Regions from separate parts of the Homo sapiens genome. Here region 2 is linked to region 1. Evidence: fine-mapped expression QTL. A gene starts in region 1. The other region holds a variant in brackets. All regions are shown on one strand. Distances are between the middles of the regions. Region 1 holds the start of GSTA4 (glutathione S-transferase alpha 4). Region 2 has its middle 9.2 kb from the start of GSTA3.

Evidence for each region.
Region 2: its variant is fine-mapped to the expression of GSTA4 in liver (GTEx, PIP above 0.99).

Annotation. Positions count from the first base shown.
Region 1 is chr6:52,993,739-52,996,653 of GRCh38, reverse strand. GSTA4 (glutathione S-transferase alpha 4) reads left to right here and starts at 1,370. Exons shown (of 7, transcript NM_001512.4): 1 at 1,370-1,405; 2 at 2,393-2,497. The coding sequence starts at 2,411. It overlaps RN7SK (RNA component of 7SK nuclear ribonucleoprotein), which reads right to left and starts at 1,034; the gene lies at 703-1,034. RefSeq lists silencers at 797-886, 1,218-1,449 and an enhancer at 1,047-1,266.
Region 2 is chr6:52,917,453-52,920,367 of GRCh38, reverse strand. No RefSeq gene overlaps it. Among named protein-coding and RNA genes, the nearest start is that of GSTA3, 9.2 kb to the right of the region's middle. The variant G/A (reference allele first, on the strand shown) is at 1,404.

The DNA.
Region 1 (2,915 bases):
TTGCCAGCCAAATTATTCTTTTAGCACCACCCCCAACTCCAAAGACCCCCTTCCAAACAGGTGCTGACTTGAGACCGTGACTATAGAGCACTTGTCTCTAAAATGTACAAAATGAAGAGAAATCTCAAGATGTCCCACTGAGATGAAGAAAGAAAGAAGAAAATATGTATGTTTGTATACATGTATACATGTATATATATGTATACACAAAATTAGAAAAGTTAGGGTCTACTGTATAAATTAAATAAGCGTTGACAGTGCTTTTGATTTTAATCTGTATGTGGTACTTTGCCTGCTTAACACCCTTATGTGGATTTCCTGACGGACTTGACATTCCTGTCAGGAAAGCATTGCGTACTTGCTGATTAAAAAGCATCTAAGGGCCGGGAGCGGTGGCTCACGCCTGCAATCCCAGCACGAGGCAGGAGGATCACCTGACGTCAGGAGTTCAAGACCACCCTGGTCAACATGGCGAAACCCCGTCTTTACTAAAAATAGAAAAATTAGCCGGGCATGGTGGCGCGCGCCTGTAATCCCAGCTACTCGGGAGGCTGAGTCAGGAGAATCGCTTGAACCCGGGAGGTGGAGGTTACAGTGAGCCGAGATCCGTCTCAAAAATAAAAAATAAATAATGAAAAAAATTAAAAATTTAAAAATTAAAAAACATTTAAAAAAGCATCTAACTTAGATGGGTAATGGGTCAAAAGAAAGGCAGACTGCCACATGCAGCGCCTCATTTGGATGTGTCTGGAGTCTTGGAAGCTTGACTACCCTACGTTCTCCTACAAATGGACCTTGAGAGCTTGTTTGGAGGTTCTAGCAGGGGAGCGCAGCTACTCGTATACCCTTGACCGAAGACCGGTCCTCCTCTATCGGGGATGGTCGTCCTCTTCGACCGAGCGCGCAGCTTCGGGAGGGACGCACATGGAGCGGTGAGGGAGGAAGGGGACACCCGCCTAGCCAGCCAGATCAGCCGAATCAACCCTGGCGATCAATGGGGTGACAGATGTCGCAGCCAGATCGCCCTCACATCCGAGGTACCCAAGCGGCGCACAAGCTATATAAACCTGAAGGAAGTCTCAACTTTACACTTAGGTCAAGTTGCTTATCGTACTAGAGCTTCAGCAGGAAATTTAACTAAAATCTAATTTAACCAGCATAGCAAATATCATTTATTCCCAAAATGCTAAAGTTTGAGATAAACGGACTTGATTTCCGGCTGTTTTGACACTATCCAGAATGCCTTGCAGATGGGTGGGGCATGCTAAATACTGCAGTCTCCATTGGTGAGGTCGTCCCGGAGCCTCGCCCAGCTCCCGCGCGCTAGAGCCGCCTGCTGGTCTCACCCAGCCGGGACCGCTGACCTGGCGCTTTGTGCGGCTCCAGGCCTCCGAGTGGACTCCAGGTCTGTCTCCCTCCTGCGGTCGCCCCCTTCCTCGCCCTTTCTCTCTTCTTTTTTTTCCCTCCCCTTTACTCTCTGAGTCTCACTCTCGCATTCTTCCCTCACTCCCCCAGTTCAGTCCTTCTCTTGTCTTTTCTTCCTCTTGTCCTTTGTCCTCCTGCTCCATCCAGTCTGGGCAGAGGTGGGCCCCTTGGCTGGAGCTGGGGTCCTTCTTGGCTCAGTGTGCGTATTTTTTTTTAAACCCCTTCTGCGGAGTCTGAATGCATTGGTGGAAGGTGGGCTCGGATCGTCCCCGGGCCTGGCTGGGCTGCCGCTACGCCCCTGCATGGGCTGAGCGGGGAAGACGAGCATGGGAGAGTGCGATCTCAGATGGCCAAGCCCTGGCCCCCGGCTCGTTTTACAAGGCCGGGGGCTCATCTCCCTGTAGGGGTGGTGGACACGCGGGACCCGGGGGGCGCAGCCACCGCATGCGTGACGGTGGACGCACATTTTGCAGACAGTAGTAGTACTCGGCCTGTTCACCTTCCAGTTGCCGTGATAATAAAATATGATGATGTATGTAAAAGCATGAATACTTGAAGAGCTTCCAGTGGCTGTGCGATTTTCCTTCGCTACCCTCTTCAACGCCTGCCACCCCCTATCCCCCAGCTGAATTTGGAAAATCTGAGATTCTCGAGGTCAAAATATATAATATTCTGAATTTGTGAAATCCCGTACTGCTAGCACATATGTTTTTACAACAAATGGCCCCAGCTTCCCAAGATCCAGGATAAGAAGTCATAAATAGAAATCATATAAAAGCCAAGGTTTTTTTCTCCATGTTTTAAAATGGTGGTTTTTTTTTCTTGAGTGAGGGAAAATGCAGCAACAAAAATAAAGAACAGTTTCCCGTGCCAAAATCCTGAATATTCATTTCGCCCCTGAGCACTGGGTTGAAGACGCGAAATTGGGACTGTTGGTCTGCGACGAGCTGCTGCATTTGTATTTCAGAAAGCCTGAAAAGCTATCATGGCAGCAAGGCCCAAGCTCCACTATCCCAACGGAAGAGGCCGGATGGAGTCCGTGAGATGGGTTTTAGCTGCCGCCGGAGTCGAGGTACCTTATATGCTGTTTCTTCACGGATTTGTCATACAGCTTTTGAGACCTTTGAAAGAAAAATACGTTTTGAAGCACCGTTCAGTTCTAGTTCTCGTCCACCAAAATCACAGGCACGCTTCACTGAGTCAGATACCATCCCTGAAGGGATTTTTCTTTATAATTAGAACGTAGTTGATGGAATTCTATTTTCCTTTTGACTTTTACTTAATTATTGGCTTCTGATCTAGCACCAGTGAATATTTATTAATAAGAAGAAAGGAAATTTACCTGAAAATTGTCAGTTACTCTGAGCTCTTATTAATTATGCATTCTCAGGGTAAATTTCTTGTTTTCTTCAGTGGCTTCAAACTGGCAGCCTTGGTATCTTGCTTACATATGTGTGTGTGTCTGTTTTTGTTTTCGTTCTGTTCTTTTA
Region 2 (2,915 bases), 76 kb after region 1:
GAGACAGAGGGAGTCAAAAAGAAAGAAATAGTAAAAAAAAAAAAAAGTACGCTGTACTCCTTTAAAAGCCAGCGTAAATTTAAAACCTATAATTGATAATTGAAGGTCCTCTCCGTGACCCTATAACACTCCAATACTACCTTGTTGTCAGTGTAAACAAGGGCGTAGCCTGAAAACACTGAGACCACAGAAAACCAGTAGCTTTCCTATCAAAAATCCTTAACCCAGTAACCCATGGATGCATTCAATCTGTAGCGGCAACTGCTTTGCTAACAGAAGAAAGTAGAAAAGTAACCTTTAGAGGAAACCTCATTGTGAGCACACCTCACCAGTTCAGAGTTATTCTAAGTCAAAAAAGCAAAAAGGTTACTAACTCAAAAATCTTAAAGTATGGGGGCTATTCTGTTAGAAAAAGGTAATGTAACTCCAACCACTGATAATTCCCTTAACCCAGCAGATTTCCTAACAGGGGATTTAAATCTTAATTACCATACAAAGGTCCAACCAGACCTAGGAGGAACTCCCTTCAGGACAGGAAGATAGATGGTTCCTCTCAGGTGATTGAGGATACAATGGGTATTCAGTAACTGACAGGGAGATTCTTGTGGAAGCAGAGTTAGAAAAATTGCCTAATAATTGCTCTGCTCAAACATGCAAGCTGTTTGCACTCAGCCAAGCCTTAAAGTACTTACAGAATCAAGTACTTACTCAATCCTGACTCAAAAAGTTACCTACACGTTCTCTGAAATGAATTTGCATAAGAACTGTTGTTTATGGGAATGCATCTTGATGGGGCAGCTGGGTTGTTATGAAATATTCAGGAACCCAGCCCAGCTCTAGGACTCACCCCTGAGCACAAAGGCAATGTTGGACACACTGGTAAAGGACCACTAGAATCCAGCAGCCCAGACCCATTTCTTTGTGGTCAAGAAAGGTGGGAAAACAGGGGCAGGACTGCCACATCAGTGAGCTTAACTAATCCAATAAGCAGAGGTCCATGGGTGGTTACGCACCCTGGAAAGTAATAAGCATTAGGACCATAGAGGATGCTCTATGACTAATGCTCATTGGAAAATTACTGGGGTGCTGGCATCCTTATGTTCTTTTTTCAGATGGGAAACGTTTCCCCCAAGGCAAAAACACCCCTAAGATGTATTGTGGAGAATTCAGCCCAGTCAGAGTGTATGCACCTTTTTCCCTCTCACAGTTGAAGCAAATTAAAATAGACCTAGGTAAATTCTCAGATAACCCTGATGGCTATATTAATGTTTTACAAGGGTTAGGACAATCTTTTGATCTGACATGGAGACATATAATGTTACTGCTAGATCAAACACTAACCCCAAATGAGAGAAGTGCCACCAAAACTGCAGCCCAAGAGTGTGGCAATCTCTGGTATCTCC[G/A]TCAGGTCAATGACAGGATGACAACAGAGGAAAGAGAACAATTCCCCACAGGCCAGCAGGCAGTTTCCAGTGTAGACCCACACTGGGACACAGATTCAGAACATGGAGATTGGTGCCACAGACATTTGCTACCTTGCATGCTAGAAGGACTAAGGAAAACTAGGAAGAAGCCTATGAATTATTCAATGATGTCCACTATAACACAGGGAAAGGAAGAAAATCCTACGGCCTTTCTGGAGAGACTAAGGGAGACATTGAGGAAGCATACCTCTCTGTCACCTGACTCTCTTGAAGGCCAACTAATCTTAAAGGATAAGTTTATCCTTTAAGTCAGCTGCACACATTAGAAAAAAAACTTCAAAAGTCCGCCTTAGGCCTGGAGCAAAATTTAGAAACACTATTGAACTTGGCAACCTCAGTTGTTTATAATAGAGATCAGGAGGAGCAGGCGGATTGGACAAACGGGATAAACAAAAGGCCACTTCTTTAGTCATAGCCCTCAGGCAAGCGGACTTTGGAGGCTCTGGAAAGGGCAAATCAAATGCCTAATAGGGCTTGCTTCCAGTGTGATCTACAAGGGCACTTTAAAGAAGATTGTCCAAGTAGAAATAAGCTACCCCCTTGTCCATGCCCCTTATGTCAAGGGAATCACTGGAAGGCCTACTGCCCCAGGGGATGAAGGTCCTCTGAGTCAGAAGCCACTAACCAGAAGATCCAGCAGCAAGACTGAGGGTGCCTGGGGCAAGTGCCAGCCCATGCCATCACCCTCACAGAGCCCCGGGTATGTGTGACCATTGAGGGCCAGGAGGTTAACTGTCTCCTGGACACTGGCGCGGCCTTCTCAGTCTTACTCTCCTGTTCCGGACAACTGTCCTCCAGATCTGTCACTATCCGAGGGGTCCTAGGACAGGCAGTCACTAGATACTTCTCCCAGCAACTAAGTTGTGACTGGGGAACTTCACTCTTTTCACATGCTTTTCTAATTATGCCTGAAAGCCCCACTCCCTTGTTAGGGAGAGACATTCTAGCAAAAGCAGGGGCCATTATACACCTGAACATAGGAGAAGGAACACCTGTTTGTTGTTCCCTGCTTGAGGAAGGAATTAATCCTGAAGTCTGGGCAACAGAAGGACACTATGGATGAGCAAAGAATGCCCATCCTGTTCAAGTTAAACTGAAGGATTCCACCTCCTTTCCCTACCAAAGGCAGTACCCCCTTAGACTCAAGGCCCAACAAGGACTCCAAAGGATTGTTAAGGACGTAAAAGCCCAAGGCCTAGTAAAACCATGCAATAGCCCCTGCAGTACATCAATTTTAGGAGTACCGAAACCCAACGGACGGTGAAGGTTAGTGCAAGATCTCAGGATTATCAATGAGTCTGTTGTCCCTCTGTAACCAGCTGTACCTAACCCTTATACTCTCTGCTTTCCCAAATACCAGAGGAAGCAGAGTGGTTTACAGTCCTGGACCTTAAGGATGACTTTTTCTGCATCCCTGTACATCCTGACTCT